Regions from separate parts of the Homo sapiens genome. Here region 1 is linked to region 2. Evidence: fine-mapped expression QTL. A gene starts in region 2. The other region holds a variant in brackets. All regions are shown on one strand. Distances are between the middles of the regions. Region 1 overlaps MTHFSD (methenyltetrahydrofolate synthetase domain containing). Region 2 holds the start of MTHFSD (methenyltetrahydrofolate synthetase domain containing).

What was found. PIP is the estimated chance that this variant, and not a neighbour inherited with it, causes the effect.
Region 1: its variant is the best candidate, but not a certain one, in a credible set for the expression of MTHFSD in whole blood (INTERVAL, PIP 0.79).

Annotation. Positions count from the first base shown.
Region 1 is chr16:86,527,443-86,538,139 of GRCh38, forward strand. It overlaps MTHFSD (methenyltetrahydrofolate synthetase domain containing), which reads right to left. Exons shown (of 8, transcript NM_001159377.2): 8 at 2,744-5,039. The coding sequence ends at 4,569. Among named protein-coding and RNA genes, the nearest start is that of FOXF1, 22 kb to the left of the region's middle. RefSeq lists an enhancer at 1-595. The variant A/T (reference allele first, on the strand shown) is at 3,219.
Region 2 is chr16:86,550,422-86,561,664 of GRCh38, forward strand. It overlaps MTHFSD (methenyltetrahydrofolate synthetase domain containing), which reads right to left and starts at 4,814. Exons shown (of 8, transcript NM_001159377.2): 1 at 4,748-4,814; 2 at 4,224-4,330; 3 at 1,612-1,725. The coding sequence starts at 4,763. FLJ30679 (a long non-coding RNA gene) reads left to right here and starts at 4,899. Exons shown (of 1, transcript NR_026674.1): 1 at 4,899-6,878. RefSeq lists enhancers at 2,421-3,085, 3,086-3,748, 4,717-4,766, 4,807-5,096 and a silencer at 4,671-4,884.

The sequences.
Region 1 (10,697 bases), 23 kb before region 2:
GCTAGCACGTGTCTCAAGATGCTGATGTTCGGCAGCTCCTTGTTGCCTGCTCGTATCTGTAGACGAGGCCCAGACTCCTGCCACAGGTGTGTGGAGAAGCCCTGGCTCAGATGCTGCCTCCGCAGCCCAGGGACGTCCTCCTGTCGTGTTTCTGAATGCTGGTGCGGTCTTGCCTTCCACACCGGGCTTGGCTGTGGCTTGCCACCGCCTGGTCTCCAGAACTCTCGTCTTACTGCTCACAGATTTTCTTTCTCCCTACACATCACGTCTTCTAATACAAATGTTGATGTTGTGAGTATGCATTTGTATTTTTAAAAACATCACCACCCCTCCTGCTGAGCTTTTTATTTCTGCTGTCTGCAGGCTCTGTTTAGGATCCTCACCCACCTCACAGGACTTCTATTTTTAGAGCTCATGTTTTCCTGTGTATTTTAAGATCAGAGCAGACACGAGCAAAAAATGACACATTTTCCTTTTTAAAAAACCTTTTTTTAAATAAAGTTTCGAGGACACTTCATCAACACAACTTTTTTTCATGGAAAACCGTCTCACATGTCTCAGGAGTAAGGAGCGGATGATGCCTGAGATTTTCTCGATTCCTGCAGTGAAGCTTTTTCACGATGTAGTTCCTTCACTTTGAGTCTCTCAAAGGCCCCATGTTGATCTGTTTTCTATTTATTCAATTGTATCGATTTCATATTTGCCCAGGAACGAGGCCCACGGGTGCTTCCTAGGTCTCGCGTTCCGACTTGCGTGTGGTGCAGGCTTTCAGAGCTCAACCCGGAGGGGCCCGTTTCCAGTTCAGTGACCGGCCATCTGAGGGCTGGGGAGGGGTGTGGCCAGGCTCACCCAGATGGGGAACTCAGGTCACACACGCCTCCACCTGTTTGGGTGAAGCCAGTGAGCTGGGGCCAGATGACACCTGACCTCCCTCCTGGAGCAGGAACGGAGGCTCCTTCCTGCGTTTCCCACCTGCTGTGCCCAAAGGAGCCTCCTAGAGCTCGCCCAGTGCTCCAGCTTCTCAGCCCACGTTCCCCAGGGCTCGGCTCCCGTGTCAGCCCTGTCACCTGGGAAATGGCTCCAGGGCCATCACCACCACTTCTGCCCCAGGGTCCACTCTTGACACAAGGGCACCAGGCAGGACCTCTGGCTGAGTCCTCAGTCTCACCCCTTTGGAGAGTGAAGTCCTCCGTCTGGGGGGCAATCAGTGGGTCTGGGGCGGCCAGGCCGACTGGCCTCAGCAGCGGGCGCACCGCTGAGCTGTGACCGTGCACCTCAGGCACATCGTTTCGGCTAACGTTCACACAACCCGCAGTGTGTGCTCCTACCGCACCCCCTTACAGATGAGCAATGGGAGGCTCAGAGGGATGAAGCAGCTGCCACCGCACACCCACCGCACCACACGGCGGCAGCACTGACGCTGAAAGCCACGTCTGCTGGCTTCCGAAGCTCCTGTTGTTAATCGTGGCTATGTTTCAAAACTGCAGAGAAGAAAGCCTGGAAATAAATAAGGGGCAATGTCAAGGTTGCCCAAGTGGTGCTCCTTCTTTATCCTTCTCATATTCTAAAATTTCTAGAAGGAATTAGACAACCAAAAAACCTAAGGGATGGGGACTAGTTAGTCTCAAAATAAACTCAGAATATTAGAACTGGTAAGAACTTTAGAAACCAAGGAGTTCAACCCCTTAAGCCAAAACCTGCACAGGTAGGTGACCTGCCCACAGCACCCACCTAGGACCACACCCCGCAGTGAGAGCTGGGCTACTGGGCTCCAGAGTCCAGCGCTCACTGTTGCAGAGCCAAAGGTATGTGTTCTGGAAACTGCAGCTGCAGATTCTGCACAAGTCTTTCTCATCCACTGGCAAAACCACGCCACCATTTAGGAAGATACCAAGATAGGACCCATGAATCACGACGGCTTCATTTAAAAGGGTACAGGCCGGGTACAGTGACTCATGCCTGTAATTCCAGCACTTTGGGAGGCCAGGGCAGGCAGATCACTTGAGGTCAGGAGTTGGAGAGCAGCCTGGCCAACATGATGAAACTCCATCTCTACTTAAAAAAAAAAAATTGGCCAGGCGTGGTGGTGCGCACCTGTAGTCCCAGCTACTCAGGAGGCTGAGACAAGAGAATAGCTTGAATCCAGGAGGTGGAGGTTGCAGTGAGCTGAGTTTGCACCCCTGCGCTCCACCCTGGGCAAGAGTGAGATTGTCTCAGAAAGAAGGGTACAGGCCAGGTACAGTGACTCATGCCTGTAATCCCGGCACTTTCGGAGGCCAAGGTGGGAGGATTGCTTGAGGCCAGACGTTTGAGACCAGCCTGGGCAACATAGGGAGACCCTATCTCTACTAAAAAATATTAGCTGGGCATGGTGGTGCACACCTGTCGTCCTAGCTACGTGGAGGCTGAGGAGGGAGGATGGCTCGAGCCTGGGGGTTCAAGGCTGCAGTGAGCTGTGATCACACCACTGCACTCCAGCCTGGGTGACAGAGTAAGACCCTGTCTCAAAAAATAATAATAACAGATATAAAAATAAGAGGGATGGTCTCAGCAGTTGTCAAGTGGTTGTCTTCCATTCTCCCCTTATCACGTGTGAGTGACACAATCCCGATGCTGAGCCGTGGGAACAAGAAGTTGGGTTGTTGAGCACCTGCCTCACTGCTGCCTGCTCACCACGCTCCTTGGGAACTGTCCCCACAGGCCTCCCTGGGAAGGACAGGGCAGTGAAAGGTGTGCAGGCTGATACATGTGGGGGATTTTATTTCAGGCACTTGCTCTTCAGTTTTTCTTACACGATGTTCCACAAATATAAAAATGAGAAACTCTTTCAGATTATCTGTATATCCATATACCTGGATTATTCTGGCTAAAGCGACAGGAAATCCCAGCAGTCTGGCTTCCCCGAGTAACCCTGTACTGCCTGGTTTAATCCCGCCGTCTGAGGGTGGGGTGGGCGTCAGGCATGGCTGGACACAGGAGTGCCAGTGGTGGGGTCAGAATCCAGCTTCTCCCTCTCCCGGCCCCAGTGGGTCTATTCCCCGAAGTCCTTGCTCCTGTCTGCAGGGCTGTGCCCACTGCCGGTGGGGCAGGGAGTGGAGAAGGGGGGCTGACTCACTTGCTCTTCTCCTGGAGTTGCTATTCTAACGGCAGCAAATCCACAGGAAAAAGGTAAACAAAAAAAAAAAAATAAGAATCTTTCAGAAAAAGAAGTATTTTTT[A/T]AAAAAAGAGAGAAAAGAAGGTGAGGAGTTCAGTGTAACCAGGTGACTACTCTGAACTGGGGACTGAGTCAGCCTCTGACGCTGAGCTGAATGCCCAATGACAAACGTGACCAGCCGTGCGGGCGGGGGCAAGGCCAAGGACACAGAGGGCCGAGGGCCCAGGGCCAGGTGTGGCGCTTCCAGACGTTTCTACTCTCTCATTTTATTCATGGCGACTTGGGAAGGAAATCTGTCTTTAATGAGCAAATGTAAGGCTGCGTTTTCTTTGCGAAGTCTCCACAGGATTTTCACGGCAAAACCAATGAGAAAATGTCCTTTCAAAGAGAAGACCGAGTGTCCCGAGAACATTTTCTTGAAAGCGCGTGCACGGGCCGCCCTCTCGAGGCATCGTAATGTGCTTCAAAGAACACTTGGTAAAACCCTCTGGCTAAAAAATCAAAATTTCCAAAGCATATACATTTGAAAAAAACAAAATCTCCACTTAAAAGCTTATTTTGACTTGTTGCCCGGGATCAATTGCAAAAGCGCTTCTGTTGAGAAAGGACAGTTCAGCCAAACTCAAGCTGGTTTTTAGAAACAGAACTGGAGGAAAAAAACCCAGAAAACATAAGGCACTGGGCAAATGTGACGTAGGCTGGGATGAAACCCATTCTCCCAGAGCCGGTCTCTCCCACAGCACAAAGCTGCTCCTCATGCAGCCAGCTGGCTGAGGGCCCGGAGTGTGTCCACAGAGGGAGGAGCGGGGCTGGGGAGGGGAAGAGGGGAGGCTGGCTCCCCGAAATGTGACCTGAGGACTGATCTGAGCTGCAGTGAGCACTTTTTACCCAGGGGCTGAGCTTCCTGGGCTCCTGCGACATGGATGGAGCTCTCCCTGCCGTGCTGCCAGCTCAGGAGCCTGAAGCCCAAGGGCGCGCTTCTGTACCCAGCATCCAGTCCCTGCCAGGGCCTTTTGAGAGCCGGATCCTTTGTTCATCTTCTCCTGTTCAGCCCACCCCTGGCAAACTCGAGATCACCTTCACATCACCCTCCCCTGCTTAGCCACTCACTCAGTCCCTGGCCCCTCTGCTCTGTCCCTCCAGAGAAACAGAAACCGACTCAAGGCCCGAGCCTGCACGATTGGGAGGCTGCAGTCTCTGCGCGCTGTGAGATGAACCGCAGGGCGGCTTCCCCACTCACAGGAGGGCCTGGGCGTTCACTGAGCGGTGACTTCTGAGAAGAATTGAGACCCGAGCAGCTCAGGCGGTGGCTCCGACACGTCTTGCCACGCAGGCCTCTCGAGTGCCATCGGAACCGGAGCGGCAGGGGACGGGGATGGCGAGTCTGCAGTGAGCTCCGTGGCTGTCCACGAGGTCACTTGTCCCTCTGCTGCCTGGCCAGCGCCACCCTCAGGGTGTCGGTGCCCAGGCGCAGGCCCTGCAAGCAGGAGACGGCCTGCTGGGCTGCGGCAGAGTCCGGGTAATGGAGGAAGGCTCTGCGCCGCGGGCCCTGCCAGGTGAGCCGCAGGGGCACGGAGCCGAGTTCCCGCAGGGCTCTCTTCAGGTCACTCACACGGGCGTCCCCGGGGAGGTTCCCAACGTAAACATCGGCTGCAAGCGGGGCACCCTCCCCTGGTGGGGAGCCAGGGGCTGCCTCCATGGAATTGGTTTCTGGTCCGGGTGTGTCCGGGGGCCTCCTGCCAACACTCAGGGGCACTGTCTGCTGGCAGCCTGGTTCCGGAAGGTGCTGGTGCTCACCCTGGAGGGTGACATCCTTCCCAGCCTGCTGCTCTCGGGCGCGGAGGCTCCTCAGTATGGGGATTTTCTCCATCATCTCCAGGCTGATCTGAAAAGCAAAGCAGTTGCAGCTCTTTCAGGGACAGAATCGCAGGGGCACCTGCCACACACGCATCCACACCTCTGACTACTGGCTGTGCTGCACACGTGGACTGGATGCCAAGTGGTCTGAGCCCCAGGGACATGGGACTCCCACTGTCCCACCCACTATCTCACACAGACGATGTCACCAGTCTGTAGCTCTGCCCCTCGCCCCTGGCTTAAGGGAAGTCAGCACTCACGGGGGCTCTGGAGCGTTTGCCACGAGCTGTGGAGGCTGCAGGGTTGGGCCTCCATTTTCCTCCAGGCCCAGAAGCAGGAAAGTAAAGCTGGGGCTCTCTGCTCAGGCCTCCTACCCAGAAGAGGCACCTAAGATTGCTACTATTGGGATTATAGGGTCACAAAAGGCAGCTCCCCTAATGACCCCCCCAGAATAATGGGGAGCTGCCTCCGCATCTGCCCCCTACCTGTACCTTTGGGTGGGATGAGGACTTTAATAAGACCACAGGGGTCTCCTCTCCCCTGAAGGAACGTCTCTCAGGGGTCACCCCCTTCAATGCACAGCCAAAAATGCAGAAGCAAGGCAAGTCTGAAACACAGCTTTGAAAACACTTCCTAGCGATGGGTCATCAAACTATGAAATCAGTAACGCTATGCGAAACTTAAGTCTCAATTGTATGCGACTTGCAGACAAAGGACATCTTTGGCTTTATCTGGATTTTTCTAATCAATTAGCTACGGCAGCGGGCCCCTTGGAACAGACTGGAACTGGCTTGATGCAGCCTAAATGGTGAAGGCCTGATGGCTCTGTCCTGTGGGGCAGTTTGCACTGGGGGCTGCCTATGGGTCAGGACAAGTCAGGTGACGCCTGGACCACCGTGCCCTGTGCAAAAAAGAAACAGACAGACACTGTGTAGTCCTTTTTGACAATTCTCATTCTTTAGAGATGCTTTTTATTTTTCTTTTGGGCACCAAGCTTTCACATGAGCATGGTCATCAAGAGGCAAGCCATGGTCACCTGCAGGCCTCCAACAGAAGTGAATATGTCGCAGTACAGGGCAGCACATGAGCTAGACAACTGTAAATTGTTCTACAAGATGAAATAGTTCAACTAGTATCAATGCTCTCATTACATTCAGAATAATATGTAATTTAGAGCAATGGTCCTTATCCTTGGCAGGGTGAGAGAGGAGCCTTTGTGAGGAGCTGGGGTTCCCTCCCAAGAATGACTCACCCACAATTTTCTGTACAATTTCCCAGGGTCGATAAAGACTATTCATGGGCCTCCAAACTACAAGAAGTACACAGGCCCCAAGTTAAGCATCAATAAATTAGAGTAACAGTTAAAGATACACAAAAACCTAAGAACAGCCAAGTGCATTCCTGCAAACCTAGAGGCTCTCAGTCTTCTCTCATCTAATACCTGGCTCTGTCTCCCAGTGCTGGGTGGAAAGTAACCTCCCCTCCCGGCGAAGCTTTTGCTTTGGTCAGAGTCCTCTGTGGTGGGATGCCACTCTGCTCCCTGGCACTGCCACGTCAGAAGCCTTGGCAGGTAGCAGGCACATGGCCTCATTTTGGTCTTGAATGGCAAACAGACTCTTGGCTGTCATAGAAAGACTCTGCAAAGAAAGACTTGCGCCAACATTTCCCATTGTTCAGATACAAAGGAAAACAACTCATGTCTATGCCATGAACATATCCACGATGCGCTCTTTTCTAATCACAAGGCATTTCTCTTCCACTGGGCCCTCGGCCATCCTTCTCAACTGATTCACTGTGAGGAGACTAAACTCACAGAGCAGTATCATACCAGCTCTGAGGCCCAAGGAATCTTCAGCCGATTGTATATTTGCTGGCTCAGAATAAAGGAGCTCCCTGTGATGTGCACGGAAGGATATATTTGTCTTTCCCACGGCATGTTTCAAAACAGATTTCTGCCGCAAAACCCCAAGTGTGAAGCCTCGCCTGAGAATGCTTGCTTCTGCCATAGGGAAGCTTGAGGTGCTACTGGACACAGATGGGAGGGGAAGAATGAGAACGACCTAAGCCCAACCACCCCAACCTCTTTCTACACCTCTATTCCACCTTCTCAGAAAGTTCAGGCTTTTGTGTTTTTTTTGAAACATGTAAAAACAGATATAAACTGGTCATCATTTGATTTTGAAGGATCTTTTAAATTACCAGATTTAGTATTGAAACAGATGATACAATTTAAAAATGCAATTGCAATGACAGAAAAAGTGTGGCTATGCATTTATCTGGAAGAACTGAAAGTTACTTGGCTCTGAGTACAGCACCAGAAGCCTTGAGGTGAGAGCATCCCGTGGGGTGGGGTGGGGGCAAGGTAAGGGGTGCAGTAAGGGGTAGGGGTTTGGGGGCAGGATGCACCCTCCGGGTAAGCACTGCTCTTCTGATGGGGTCCATCGGGAGCTGCGCCAGCCCAGTCTCCTGCCTCCTGAGTTATTTCCCCTCCCATCTGTGTCCAGTAGCACCTCAAGGTTCCCTATGGCAGAAGCGAGCATTCTCAGGCGAGGCTTCACACTTGGGGTTCTGCGGCAGAAATCTGTTTTGAAACATGCCGTGGGAAAGACAAATATATCCTTCCGTGCACATCACAGGGAGCTCCTTTATTCTGAGCCAGCAAATATACAATCGGCTGAAGAATAATGAAAACATCTTAACCACACATTATGAGCTAACTGGCGGCCAGGGCACTGGCACACTGGCATCCGCAGGGGCCGTTAGAATGGAAATGTGGAAGTGTGTTCCACTGCAGGAAAATCGCTCTTTTCATGAGCAGTGTTTGTGGGTAAAGGATGACAAGGCTTCACATCAGCTCCCTCCTCCTCAAGCTCTAATGGCTGTGGGGCGGCTTTGCCACTCTGCCAGCAGCTGGATGACCACGCCGATCCCTGCCACAGCTGACAAGAAAGCCTCCTGTGTGCCAGCCAGCAGGGTGTCTGGACGTCATGGTTGGGATGAGTGCATGGCAGTGCTACTGTTTCCTGGCTGGCAATGAGGAATAGTTGTTACATTCTGTCAATCTGGCATGTGAAGTGAAAAATTATGCTTGTTACTCAAACATGAGAAAACATTTTTGCCTTTTTATAACTAATTCTATTCTAAAAAAAAAAAATAGAATAAACTTTAAGTTTAAAAACCTGTCCCCTAGACATGCTAAGTCAAATACGAATCCGAAATCTGACTTTCAAGATTTCCGATTGAGAGTCAGAAACTGCTCAAAAAAGCAGACACCTGGGCTCCAATCTTAAGGCAGCTACATGCTGCTCTTACCATTTTGGATAAACTGCTTTTCTTTCTCACTCTTGCATTACCTGACCTGAAGATAAGGAAACTGGGAGGATGATCTTTGAATCCCCCTCATTTTTTTTTTAAGAGACAGGGTCTCACTGTGTCACCCAGGCTGGAGTACAGTGGCACAACTCATAGCTCACTGCAGCCTTGAATACCCAGCTCCAAGTAATCCTTCTGGCTTAGCCTCCCAAGTAGCTGGCACTACATGTGGGCACTCACCACCACACCCAGCTAAGTTCTGTATTTTCAGTAAAGACGGGATCTTGCTATGTTTCTCAGGCTGGTCTTGAACTCCTGGGCTCAAGTGATCCTCTTGCCATGGCCCCCCAAACTGCTGGGATGATAGGCGTGAGCCGTGCTGGTGAAGATGAGCAGACATCAGAAGTATTTCTAATACTAAGTTCAACCTCCATAAATAATGAGTTCTCTTGCCTGAGACTAAATTTGGTTGTTCACTGAGGAAAATGCTTTAAGACACTTCCAAATAGCCACAGTGAAATAACCATAGGGAGTAGGTATGCTCAGAGGAGAGCACAGGGAAGGCCAAGGGACCGTGCTGCCTTCCGTAAACATAAACGCCAGGCAGGCCTCGAAGCCTCTGCTGGCTCTCTAAGGGCAGAATCTCTTCAACGTGGCTCATGGAAAACCCTTTTGTTCATAGTTGATCAAAGGTGTCAGTTGGTAGAAAAAGGCTCAATAGGGCCACCCCTTTACAATCACGCTTCGACTGGGAGTGCTGACGGACAGCAGGGGCAAGGCCTGCATCTCCCAACAGGGGGCCTGACCACAGGCAGCGCTGCGTTCGACTGTACCCCAACATCAGGAAGGGATGGCTCAACCTGGGAGGGGTCTGGAAGTCACTAAGAACTATTTAGTAAAAAACATTTCTGTTTCCTGGTATACATGATCACCTTAAAACTGACGCTGCGAAATGCCAGCTTCCATCTGCACGCCTTGGCTCCTGCCTGGCCCTCATTGCGAGGCCCGCGGGAGTGGCTGCCTCCCTCCCCCTGCTCCGCACAGAGTCCTGCATGGGACCAGCAGCTCCTGTCTCACTTCCGCACTTGGGGTTTCAGCCCTCGGAGAAGAGCAGCCGCGTGGTTCCCCTCACGCAGACATGCTTGAGCTTTCCGTGTTGGCTGTTCCGGTGTCACCCTACACACGTCTGTGCGTGAGTTTTAAGAACTGGCGCATATTTAACTATTTTCATTTCTGAATTCTCATTTCTACTAACTGGGTACCCTGGGAACAGAGATAGCTACCTTGCTGCTGTGTGACTGGGTTCAAATGCACCCGGGCGCAATGTCTACCTTGGAAAATATTGAACAAATTTACTATTTTTTTCCTAAATATTGTTGATTATAAAATTAGTATATGCTTGTTGTGGGAAATTTGGGAAGAAGGTAGAAACGTTTGAAATCCTATCTCCCAGAGACAACTACTGTTAATATTCTGCTGTATTTCCTCGCCGTCTTTTCTCTCTGCCCTTTAACATGAGCAGAATATGAAATTCCATATCAAGCATGTATAATATCATATCGTGCCTTTTCTACTTTATACCACATGCACTTTCTCCTGCCACAAAATATTCTTTAAAAAGCTGTATGCACTTAAATGGACTCCCCCCACCCCCATTTTAAGGCACTGCATGTCTTCTATAGAGATTCAGATAAGTCCTTATCTGAATTTCTACATATTTCTCTAGGACTGATTCCTAGAAGGTAAATTATCAGGTCAAATACAGTAATTCTTTTTCAATGAAAGCCTCTCTCAGCTCTCTAAACATACTGGCCCAGTTGTGGGTAGGGGTTGGTTCACAGTTAGCTGCATTATTTGCAGAGAACAATTGTGTTTTATGCGGGATCTGAAATTGGGCTTTGCTGTCCCAGGACTGCTGCTCACAGAGGAGCCCTGTTCTCAAATCCTTTTTCTTGAGGTATCTGTAGATCATGCAGCATACTGTGGCCATCTGAGAACCACACTCCCCAGCAGGCTGTGTGGGGAAGAGCGGGCCATGCTTTGAAAGCTACAGAATTGTTTCCTTGAGTATAAGCACGAGCGTGGCTCTGGAAGAATCCAGTTTCCCTCATTAAGGAGCAAATGAGTTGACCCAGGAAAGTCAGATGCACGGGCCTTGGTCTATGGTGTCCTCGCCAACCCCGTGGTAATCAGGAGCCATGTGCTGATGGTGAGGAGCACAGGACGGGTGAGAAGATGTGTGTGACTGACAGTCCTTCCACTGGGCAAAGGCCAAAAGGCCCTCTGGTTTGTGGGTCTGGTGACGGGGACCACAGGCTTGTGGGTGCCCGAGTGGCTTCTCCTGAGCCCTCAGTCTCCCACTCAGGCTGGCCTT
Region 2 (11,243 bases):
TCAAGGTTTCTGATTTTTGCTCTGAGGGGCTGACAGCTGAGAACACCCTGAACTTCACACTTGCAAGGACTGGCTCTGGAGTCAGGTGGCTGAGTCAGAATCCTGGCTGTACTGAGACTGATGTGCGGTAACCTGAGGTGGAGCCTCTCTGTCTCTGGTTTCAAGTGTCACAGAGGAGCAGAGATGGCTCCCATAGTAGTAGAGAACCAAACCACATAATACAGGGAAAACATTTAGACAGAACTGCGCCTCGAATGCAGTGACTGCCGACTGCCGTCCTTCCTTGCTACTGCTGCTATTACTACTTCTAGCTTATTAAAATGATTCATTAACTGGGAAAATAAGGCTGACAGGAAGCTATGCTTCTGGAAGAGCCTACATGGAAGTCTCTCTTGGGGCTGAACCACCATCAGCAGACAAAATGATCTCCCACACGAGCCTGGACCCCTCCTCTCAGCTCCGGCAAGAGGTGTGGAAAGTGCCCCTCTCACCAGGGCTTCTCAGGAGTCTGACTTGGCAACTTGGGTGGGAGAATGGAGTCAGCACACAACGCATGGCAGCGTTAAGGCAGAATGACAACGATTCTGCCCTGAGATGGCCAGTACTATACTCATGTTATCAGCTGCGATTTGCTCCAGCAAAACCATATCAACCATTACGTTAAATTAATGGGGCCATTTGAATGTTACTGATTTTATAGTTTTGTTTGTATTTAACTTATATGCTTATTTTGGTTTTATAGTTACATAAAAGCTATCTGCATTAAAATTTATACCAAGTTTTATGTTTATCATATTGAATTAGTTTATAATAAACTAATTTAAATCAACCCTGGGGGAGTTTTCTGGTTTTCCTTGAAAAGGGGCCTGTATGTTTTCAGTTGAGGAACAAGTGCTCTAACCGATACCTTTTGAGGGTACATCAGACTTCTTACTCGTGATTTATCATGTTTCAAAGCATCATAATACCACAACTGTGGCAAAAAGAACTAAATCTTCCTTGTAATCTTCCTCCTCTGATGAAGCACATCAAAACTGAGAATGCTTCAACGCCATAGTTTTTGTGTTTGTTTGGTTAGGAAGTTAAAAAATAAAAATTACAAAAGCATGCCTGAATTTAAAAAGTTCAGCAGTGTTGAGAAGAAACCTTTCCAGTTCTTAACCGTGGTCTTTATAGTATCAGAACATGACAAGTGACCGTCTGTCATCCAGAAGCAAATGATTCTGTGTTCAGCAAGCTTGTTAGCATGCTCATTTCAAATGGCAAAGTGGTGTCATCTATTTCAGCTCCAGCTCCTCAATTCTGGAACACCACAGGTTCTGCCTGGGTTCCCTCTCCTGTGCCAACTGGGCCTGGAAGCCATTGTTTTGAACATCCTTTATCTCTGAATTTAGAAGCATTCGGGACTCCTGATTGACTGAATTGCTAAACAGCTGAAGGGCTTCTGAACTATTCTTGGAAAAATCACCACCAAGGGCACTTTCTGTATTGGAGGGAATCGGAAGCACCGACTTTCTAAATGCAAGACAGACGTGTGCACTGACCAGCTACCTGGAAAAGGTGTCCCCCTTGGCGGCCAGGTCTCGGCTCGGCTCAGGGAAGTGGAATTACCTGCAGCACCAGCAGCCGAACGCCTTCCAGTGGTTTATCAGGGTCCACTTTAACTTCCTGTGTTCTGGCAAAAACGTCTAGGTCTTTGATGTTTTGGCAAGCCAGATAAGACCCCTAGTTAGGCAAATAGACAGAGTTGCACTTACTTCAAGGACGAAGAAGCGAGCACTTTTCTGGGGGGCATCAGGATTTACTTTAATGGTCCTGGCCGTTTTGAACGCCTGCAAGCGTGGGAGTTGCTCGGCAGCATGAGAAGCGCCCTGTTTCCAATGCAATCGCACGTTACTGAAAGGACAGCACGCTCTCAGGCCAACTGCAGCCCAAGCAGCTCGGCCCAGAATCTCACCCAGACAGGCACTAACAGTCACCCAAAGAAACATCTAAGGAAGCAGTCTAAGTAAGGAAAGGGATTTGAGAAAAGTAGCCTAATCCCACTTGAGCTTTAACTGAAATGAAACATGCATTCCAAAAAGAATACAAATCCCAAGGGCAAAATTTGATGATTTTTCACAAAATGAAGGCTGCTGTGTAACCACCACCAAAATCAAGCAGTAGCATGACCTGGAAGCCCCCACCTCTCTCCTGTTTGATTCGTTTTTTAAAGATTTCTACATGATTCTCTACATCCTTCATCTTTACCTCTGTTAAGATACATTTCTCTCTCTGGGGTCAGAAGCATTAAAACAAAACACAGTAACAACAAAAAACCATCAAAAGATCAGTTTTTCAAAGGGACAGGACAGTCTTGGAACCACCTCAGCTGAGGACCAGGGAAGGTGGAGCTTGTTGTGGAGAAGCCAGGCTTGGGGAGAGGCAGTCCTGACAAAATGGGGTGAAGCAAGCCAACAGCTAAGTCCTTCAGGGCAGAGAGCATTTTTGAAAAGCGCTTTCTTTTGCTCTTGGAAAATAGGCATGTCAAAGATGATGAACTGCTGCATTGCCTCTTCCGAGTAACCTTTTTTTTTTCTGTCAACACTGTTAGGAACAGCCATCTTTGATTGTCTTACATTTTGATCAGCTGGGAAACTGAGGCCCAGCATCCTTAGGCTGGCAAGGCATTCATTTCTTTCCAAAGGCCTAGAGCCTGAACTTCCAGTTCAGTACCCCTTCATTCCCTAACGCTCTTAGCAGGGTCAATTTTGTGAAAAGCCATTACGACAATAACATGCTTCCGGCCAGGATAAATATTTTACTTTGTATCAAACAGAAAACAGCAACTAGCACCACCTTGAAAGGTGACAGCGTGCTGGCAGCCCTCGGTCCCTCTCGGCGCCTCCTCGGCCTTGGCGCCTACTCTGGCCGTGCTTGAGGAGCCCTTCATCCCGCAGCTGCACTGTGGGAGCCCCTTTCTGGACTGGCCCAGGCCGGCTCCCTCAGCTTGCTGGGCGGTGTGGAGGGAGAGGCGCGGGCGGGAACTGCTGCTGTGCATGGTGCTTGTGGGCCAGCGCGAGTTCCATGTAGGCGTGGGGAGCCCCGCACTCACAGCGGCTGGCCCTGGGCAGTGAGGGGCTTAGCACCTGGGCCACCAGCTGCTGTGCTCTATTTCTCGCCGGGCCTTAGCTGCCTCCCCAAGACCTGCAGCCTGCCATGCCTGAGCCTCCCCACCCCCACCGGCGGGCTCCTGTGCAGCTAGAGCCTCCCCGAGGAGCGACGCTCCTGCTCCACGGTGCCTGGTGCCATCCACTGCCCAACGGCTGAGGAGTGCGGGTGCACTGCACGGGACTGGCAGGCAGCTCCACCTGCAGCCCCAGTGCGGGATCTGCTGGGTGAAGTCAGCTGGGCTCCTGAGGCTGGTGGGGACTTGGAGAATCTTTATGTCTAGCTAAGGGATTGTAAACACACCAATCAGCACCCTGTGTCTAGCTCAGAGTTTGTGAATGCACCAATGGGCACTCTGTATGTAGCTAATCTAGTGGGGAGGTGGAGAACTTTTGTGTCTAGCTCAGGGATTGTAAACGCACCAATCAGCATCCTGTCAAAACGGACCAATCGGCTCTCTGTAAAATGGACCAATCAGCAGGATGTGGGTGGGGCCAGATAAGAGATTAAAAGCAGGCTGCCTGAACCAGCAGCAACAACCCTCTCCAATCCCCTTCCACATTGTGGAAGGTTTGTTCTTTGCAATAAATCTTGCTGCTGCTCATTCTTTGAGTCCACCCTGCCTTTGTGAGCTGCAACACTCTCTGCTAAGGTCTGCAGCTTCACTCCTGAAGCCAGCAAAGACCGTGAACCCACCAGAAGGAAGAAACTCTGAACACATCCAAACATCAGAAGGAACAAACTCCAGACACGCTGCCTTTAAAAACTGTAACACTCACTGCGAGGCTTCATTCTTGAAGTCAGTGAGACCAAGAACCCACCAATTCTGGACACAACCTCACCTAGAGACAACCAAACCACCCTGCACAGAGACGCAAGAGGCCCCAGGTGAAGAGTAAATGACGTCTCTAAATGCTAAGGACGCCCTGGCCAAATGGCTTTGATTTCACACCACTGCTCACTGCTCGCCACATTCTCATCCACCATGACGCAGTAAGAGAATTTTATTACTAGTGTTATTCATTTAAGAATATTTTGTTTTCCTTTTCTGGACTCCAGAAATATGTCAGTACCTTAAAGTTGGGTATCCTGTGATGAACAGGTCGGGGAAAGTCAGCTAAATTTTGTGATTCCATGTAGCCCCAAATTTGTTCACGTATGTCCTGTTTGGAGACACCTACTGCAACAAAAGATTCCCACTTAATAACATACAAAGGAATTCCAGAGCCCATGCTGAAACCGCTTAACAGTAGTTAAGCGACCCCCGCGTGTAGGTCAAACCGGCTTCCGATCCTGTTCCTGAGCCTCAGTTTCCCCGACCTCAAGGGGCCCACGGGCTCCCCCACGTGCACGGCAGGTGTCCCTCCCGCCTCGTCTTCTCGTTATCTTTATTTTTCCTGACATCTTTCTCGGGATTCCGGGCGAGAGAGCCGCTGGTTCGACCCGAACCCAGCACAGACCCCCTCTGACCTCCTCGGCCGCTTCCGGTGATTCTGCCCCATCCTCTGCCAGCCCCGGTGGCCCCGCCTCGACCCTCACCGGTCCCGGCTGTCCCTCCCCATTCCCAGCCGCCCCGGAGCCCCGCCAGGCCCCCCACCTGCCCTCGGCTCCATGGTGATGCAGTCGCTGTGCGACGCTTCCCGGCGCAGGTTCTGGCGCGTAGTGACGTCACCCGCTCCGCGCCTGCGCGATGGTAGGAGGGGCGGAGGCTGAGCGGGCGAGGCCCAGGCGCGCATGCTCGGGCGGGTAAAATCCGCGCCGGGGACAGTCAGGGATGCTCCCAGGCCCTTCGCTCTTGCTTTCAGCTAGTCATTGTCGAGCGCCGCCCGTGACAGGCGTTTTGCCAAGCCCTGGAGTTACTGAAGTGAACAAGTCCCTGGTCTCTCGGGACCCATTGCCGGTTGAAACACATCCCGCCTCCTCTTCCAGTCCTAGAGGCCGCCTCCTCCGGAAAGCCGGCCTTGATTGCTCCTCATGTAGGACGCGGTTCCCTCCTCTGAGATCCTGCAGACTCTCAGGTGCTCACACGTGGGTGTGCAGCGGATTCAGCCGGCAGCTCTTTAAAGCGGCAGGCAGATGGAAATTCGAGGCCAGCCCAGCCCCGGCGACTGCGCTGCGGACGGCCAGAGGCCATCCTTTGAGAAACACCCGTGGATTCTTACCCTGACCTCTGCATACCCTGAGAAAGAACGAACGTGGCAGCCTGCGTCTGCTTGTCTATGTCTTTCATGTTTGCTAACCTAAGGGTCGAGAAGCGGCTCGAGGAGACCAGGCTGCACAGACCGTCACGTCCATTCCCTCTCTGGCCCCAGCCCCGCGGGAAGAAAACGAGGGCGTTCAGCCTGGCAGTTCATTCACTTATTAGGAAGAAGACATCCCACACCCCCACCCAGCACACACACAGATGTCAGGGACCAGCCACTAGGAACCACTCCCTGAGCGAATGAAGGCATCCCCGTAGCCACGTGCCTGGTACATCACAAGCACTCAAAACGTGGCTGCCACCTTTCGAAATTGCATGCCCAAAACTTTATGAGATCCTCACAACACACTTGGGAAACAGACAAAAGAGTTTGAATGCCCGCCTACTTAACAGATACAGAAAATGGTGTTCCGTGTACAAGCGACTTACTCATGTCTGCTGGTAACTCATAATGTGCCGTTTGACCTCCTTAGGACATAATTAATAATGGTAATTAACAGTGCTACGATATGCCAGGCATTGAGCTTAGCGCCTTAAAAGTCATAGCTAACTATGTTTCACAGCAAACCCTCAGAGGCAAATGTGACCCGCCTCCTACGCAGGAGGCAACAGAGGCTCAGACATGTTAAAGAAGCTTGGCCTGAGTCTCCCAGCAGAGAAAGGGCAGAGCGTGTAGCCCTGACAACGTGCTTAATTGCAACTCCTGTGGGTCCCATCACAACTCTCTCTTCCTATGTGGTGTCCGCAACATTAATACATAGAGACACCGAGGAGCCTCAGTTCTGCTTGTGGGCGGGCCTGTCTTTCACCAGGCTGGCAAAAGCAGTGCAAACATCATTTTGGAGGTGATAAAATAAAATCTCTCACAGAGGTTGGATGTCCTTTCCGCCTTTCATGGAAGCACAGTAGATCTGCAGAGTGTTTTATGCAAGTAGACTTGGTGCCAGTAGTGGAAGTGTGTGCAGGATTCTGTTACCCAGCTGTGCTCAAAACAGAGCCCAAGTCTCTCCGATGGTCAGCCTGGCACGGCCCCCAGATGGTAACGAGACGCCAGGGACAATCTGCCAGTGGCAATTTTAGAAAGCAGGTGGTGCTAGGAAGGGCATTCTCTTCAGTTCCATGTTTTCAAGTTAGAAGTGCCTCAGAGCATTTACCCCCAGCTCCTTGAGGGGGTGAGGCAGAGGATCACTTGAGCCCAGGAGTTTGAGGCTGCAGTGAACTATAATGGCACCACTGTACTCCACTTGGGCGACACAGCCAGAACTCCTCTTTGAAAAACATAATAATAAATAAAAATAATAAATAGTAGTAATAAGAGACCCCTTAGAAAAAATCAACTGGCTCTTTTATGAAAGGAAGATGCTTTCAGAATGAATAGCTAATGCATGTGGGGTTTAATACCTAGGTGATGGGTTGACAGGAGCAGCAAACCACCATGGCACACATTTACTACCTATGTAACAAACCTGCACATCCTGCACATGTATCCTGGAACTTAAAATAAAATTTTAAAAAAAGAAGATGCTATTGAACCTTAACTCAAATACTTAAAACTCAATCATATGTGTAAATTTGCATTTGGGCACTTCAGGATTTTTTTTTGTTTTGGTAGATTTTATCATTTAGAAAAGTTTTGGTTTGGCCAAGAGTGGTGGTTCACACCTGTAATCCCAGCACTTTGGGAGGCTGAGGTGGGCAGATCAATTGAGGTCAGGAGTTTGTGACCAGCCTGGACAACATGGTGAAATCCCATCTCTACTAAAAATACAAAAAATTAGCTGGGGGTGGTGGCTCGCGCCTGTAATCCCAGCTACTCAGGAGGCTGAGGCAGGAGAATCACTTGAACCCAAGAGGCAGAGGTTACAGTGAGCCAAGATTACGCCACTGCACTCCAACCTGAGCGACAGAGCGAGACTGTTTCAAAGTAAAGAAAAAAGAAAAGTTTTACTTCACAGCAAAATTGAGCAGAAAGTACAGAGAGTTCCCATATACAACCCCTGCGGCTGCATTTATACACAGCCTCCCCCACTATCAACATCCTGCTGTGGAATGGTACATTTGTTACAATGAACTTACACTGATACATTGTTATCATCCAACAGCCATGGTTTACATTAGAGCTCAGGCTTTCTGTATGTTCTGGGGTTTTGACAAATGCATAATGGCATGTGCCCATCCCTGGAGTATCAGGCAGAATATTTTTACTGCCCTACAGATCCTGTGTGCTCTGCCTCTTCCTCCCTCCCTGCCTGCCTGCTAACCCCTGGCAGTTACTGGTCTCTTTTCTTTCTCCATGGCTTTTTCTTTTCCAGAAAGTCAATAATTGGAATCATACACTATGTAGCCTTTTCAAACAGGCTTCTCGCGCTTAGTAATATGCATTTAAGGTTCTTCCATGTCTTTCCATGGCCGGAGGGTCCTCTCTTTTTAGTGCTGAGTAATATTCCATCGTGTTGGTGTCCCACGGTTTATCCATTCACGCACTGCAGGACCCCTCAGTTGCCCCTACGTTTTAGCAAATACACAGAAACCTGCTATAACTATTCCTGTGCGGGTTCACGGAGGATTGCAAAGCTTGTCACAGGCATCTTTTAGAACCTGGCTGGAAGGAATAGCGTAGAAATGGTGAGTCTGCCTAGGCATGAAGAGCGTGGCTCTGAATCTCCAAGCTGTGTTCCCTTTTACGGTGAACTTTAAACATCATAGTTCTCCGAAACTACATCCAGTAGCTTCAGTTATACTTTCAATCTACATTCAAAGTAATGGCAAAAACCGCAATTACTTTTGCACCAACCAACTTAACAAAATGTAAGATTGTTTAATAAGCTAATAACTGAAAAGGTATTTGAAGAATTCTTTCCCTCACATTAGAGGTTGCCAGATTAAATACAGGTTTCCCAGTTAAACTTGAACTTCAGATAAAGCGATTTTTTTTTTCATTTTTAGTATAAGCACGTTCCATGCAGTCTGTGGGCATTGTTATTTTCATTTGTTCAAGCTGGCAAGCCGAAAGGGCCCCCAGTCTGTTGCCAACTTCTCCAAGAAACTCACACGGCCTCGTCCCCCCTTACTCATTCTTCTGAGCTTGCTCAGCCTGGCCCCTCCCTCCCTGCACCATCCTGCGGCAGGGACGGCACCGCGGTGGAGGTTTGAGCCTGCTCCCTGGCTGGTTCAAATCCCAGGTCTGCAGCTCTCTAGCTGCGTGAGGCCGGGGGCGTCACTGAACGTCTCTGTGCCTTGCTTTTCATTTGCGGAGTGGAGATAGGAGCACCGTTGGCATCCGCCTCTCCACGCTGGTGACGGTGAAGTGCCGGATCCATGCGGCCCGGAGAACAGCACCTAGAATGCAGGGAGAGCTCTCTACGAGCATTGACCTAAAATAAAGTTTCAGCCTGTCATCATCCATGCGCCTGCCACAGCTTGGGAGCCAGGGAGCACTTGACGATGAGTCCCCATTTCTTATGCAGTGTCTGCCTAAAATAAGTGCTAGTAAATGTTTGAAACAAATCCTGGGCTTGAGCCACAAATGGGAGGCAAGGCCTGTGAGTTACGGTTGGGCAGGCAGTGAAGTGGGGGAGGGCTGCGTATCTCTGAAGCCCCATTTGTTCAATGTATAGTTAAGAACATGGAGTCTGTGGCCGGGCACGGTGGCTCATGCCTGTAATCCCAGCACTTTGGGAGGCCGAGGCGGGAGGATCACCTGAGGTCGGGAGTTCGAGACCAGCCTGACCAACATGGAGAGACCCCGTCTCTACTAAAAATACAAAATTAGCTGGGCGTGGTGGCACATGCCTGTAATCCTAGCTACTCAGGAGGCTGAGGCAGGAGAATCACTTGAACCTGGGAGGCATAGGTTGCGGTGAGCCGAGATTGCACCGTTGCACTGCAGCCTGGGCAACAAGAGCGAAACTCTGTCTCAAAAAAAAAAAAAAGAACATGGAGTCTCATGGAGTCTGTGTCAAGCAGAGCTGTGCACAGGGCGGACCAGGCCCCTGCCTGTCTTCCCTGTATGGGGGTGGTGAGGCAAACAACAGATAGAAGACTGAATGAGACCACACCAGGCAGGGGAGCCTGTGCCACTGAGAACATGAGTGAGGAGAAAGGGGGAGGTGGGGGGGGCAAGGTAAGCGGATGGCTGGGGGAGGCCTCGGAGGAGGGGGCAAGGGGGCAAAGAATTGAGATGAGGGACCAGGCCCGGGGCACAGCAGGCCCAAAGGCCATGCGGTGGGTCCAGGCTGGGCTGGCCATGCAAGCCCCATGTCGGGATGCACACAGGCAGAGGTGGGGGCCAGGGCCAGGGAGTGTTCTTGGCTTTTACGGACTCCTAGAGGTGGACAGCACCCAGTGACAGTGGTGGTCGGACTCCCCTGGGAGAGCGCTCTGCACTCTTGGTCTTATTCAGTGAGACCCACTGGGGTCCCACTCAGTTATGCCACTGTGGGCGCCAGCCCTAGTCCCAGTGGTTACTGGAAGCACTGGCTGAAGCTGCTCCCAGACTGTGGCTTTTGAGCCTGGCTTATTCCTTGGGGCTCAGAACACCCATCCTACAGGCTGCGCATTTGATGAAAATTAAATCGTCCCCCTCGCCTCTTTCTCAACCTGTCATTGTCCAAACACTGAAGTCCTCTCTGACCTCCCCAGGGGCAGCCTGCTTTCCACAGGCCATTACGGTGAGTCCATGTACCCCACAGGGTTAATCACAGGGGTTCAAGTTAGTGATATAAAAAACTCAAATCTCATACACATTAAGTTGTGTGTGGTCAGAAGTCATGGCTTCATGGATACACCATTATGGATGTTTTTCATTTAACTTTTTAAATCTCCTCTAATTTCCAAGTCCCTAATTCTTTTTTTTTGGGGGGGGCGGTAGGGGGGATGGAGTTTTGCTCTTGTTGCCCAGGCTGGAGTGCAATGGAGCGATCTCAGCTCAGCGCAACCTCCACCTCCCGGGTTCAAGCGATTCTCTTGCCTCAGCCTCCCGAGTAGCTGGGACTACAGGCGTGCACCACCATGCCCAGCTAATTTTGTATTTTTAGTAGAGACGGGGTTTCTCCATGTTGGTCAGTCTGGTCTTGAACTCCCGACCTCAGGTGATCCGCCCGCCTTGGCCTCCCAAAGTGCTGGGATTACAGGCGTGAGCCACCATGCCCAGCCCCAAGTCCGTAACTCTTAATCTCAAAGAGGCAGCAAAGGAGTGGGTTAAGAGATCCCAATTTCATCACTTGGCAGCAGCAACACTTAGTTTAGTTATTTAAGATCTCAGTTTCCTCACCTGCAAAATGGTGGTATTAATAGTACCTACCCTAAAAGAGGAGTAAGTGAGAGGTCGTGGCCAAAACGCTTAGCACGGTGCATGGCACAGGGTATGTACACATCACTTTTCCCCTTATCTACTAAGGAGAGAAATCTCGGAAACAGTCGTACACTCACTCAAGCACTACTTGCACACACATCTTGTGCTGAGGTACTGGGCAGTGCACTGGGGCTGCAGAGAACAGAGGACAGTCATTACTTACCTGGAAAGACAGTATGAGGCTGCCGAGCAGATGCCTGGGCCCAGGGAAGACTGATCTTCCTGTCCCCTGGGCGCGTTGGGGACTTATGACCAGCTCTGGCCTATGAGCTGTGAATAGAGGTGATACATGTCACTTCCAGGCTGGAAGACTTAATTCCCAGGGCCGGATCACCTCTCTCCCCTGCCTAGATGACAGGAACAGATATGATGAGAGGTGGTCTTTGAAAACTCAGGCTCCTGAGTGACTTTGATGAACAGAGCCCTCTGCTAAGCTGGGGTTGGCTCAGGGTGGTCACTGAGACTAAGTTTCTTTAAAAAGAAACATACATGTATCTTTAATATTATGATTGCTTGAGGCTAAGAGTTCCAGGCTAC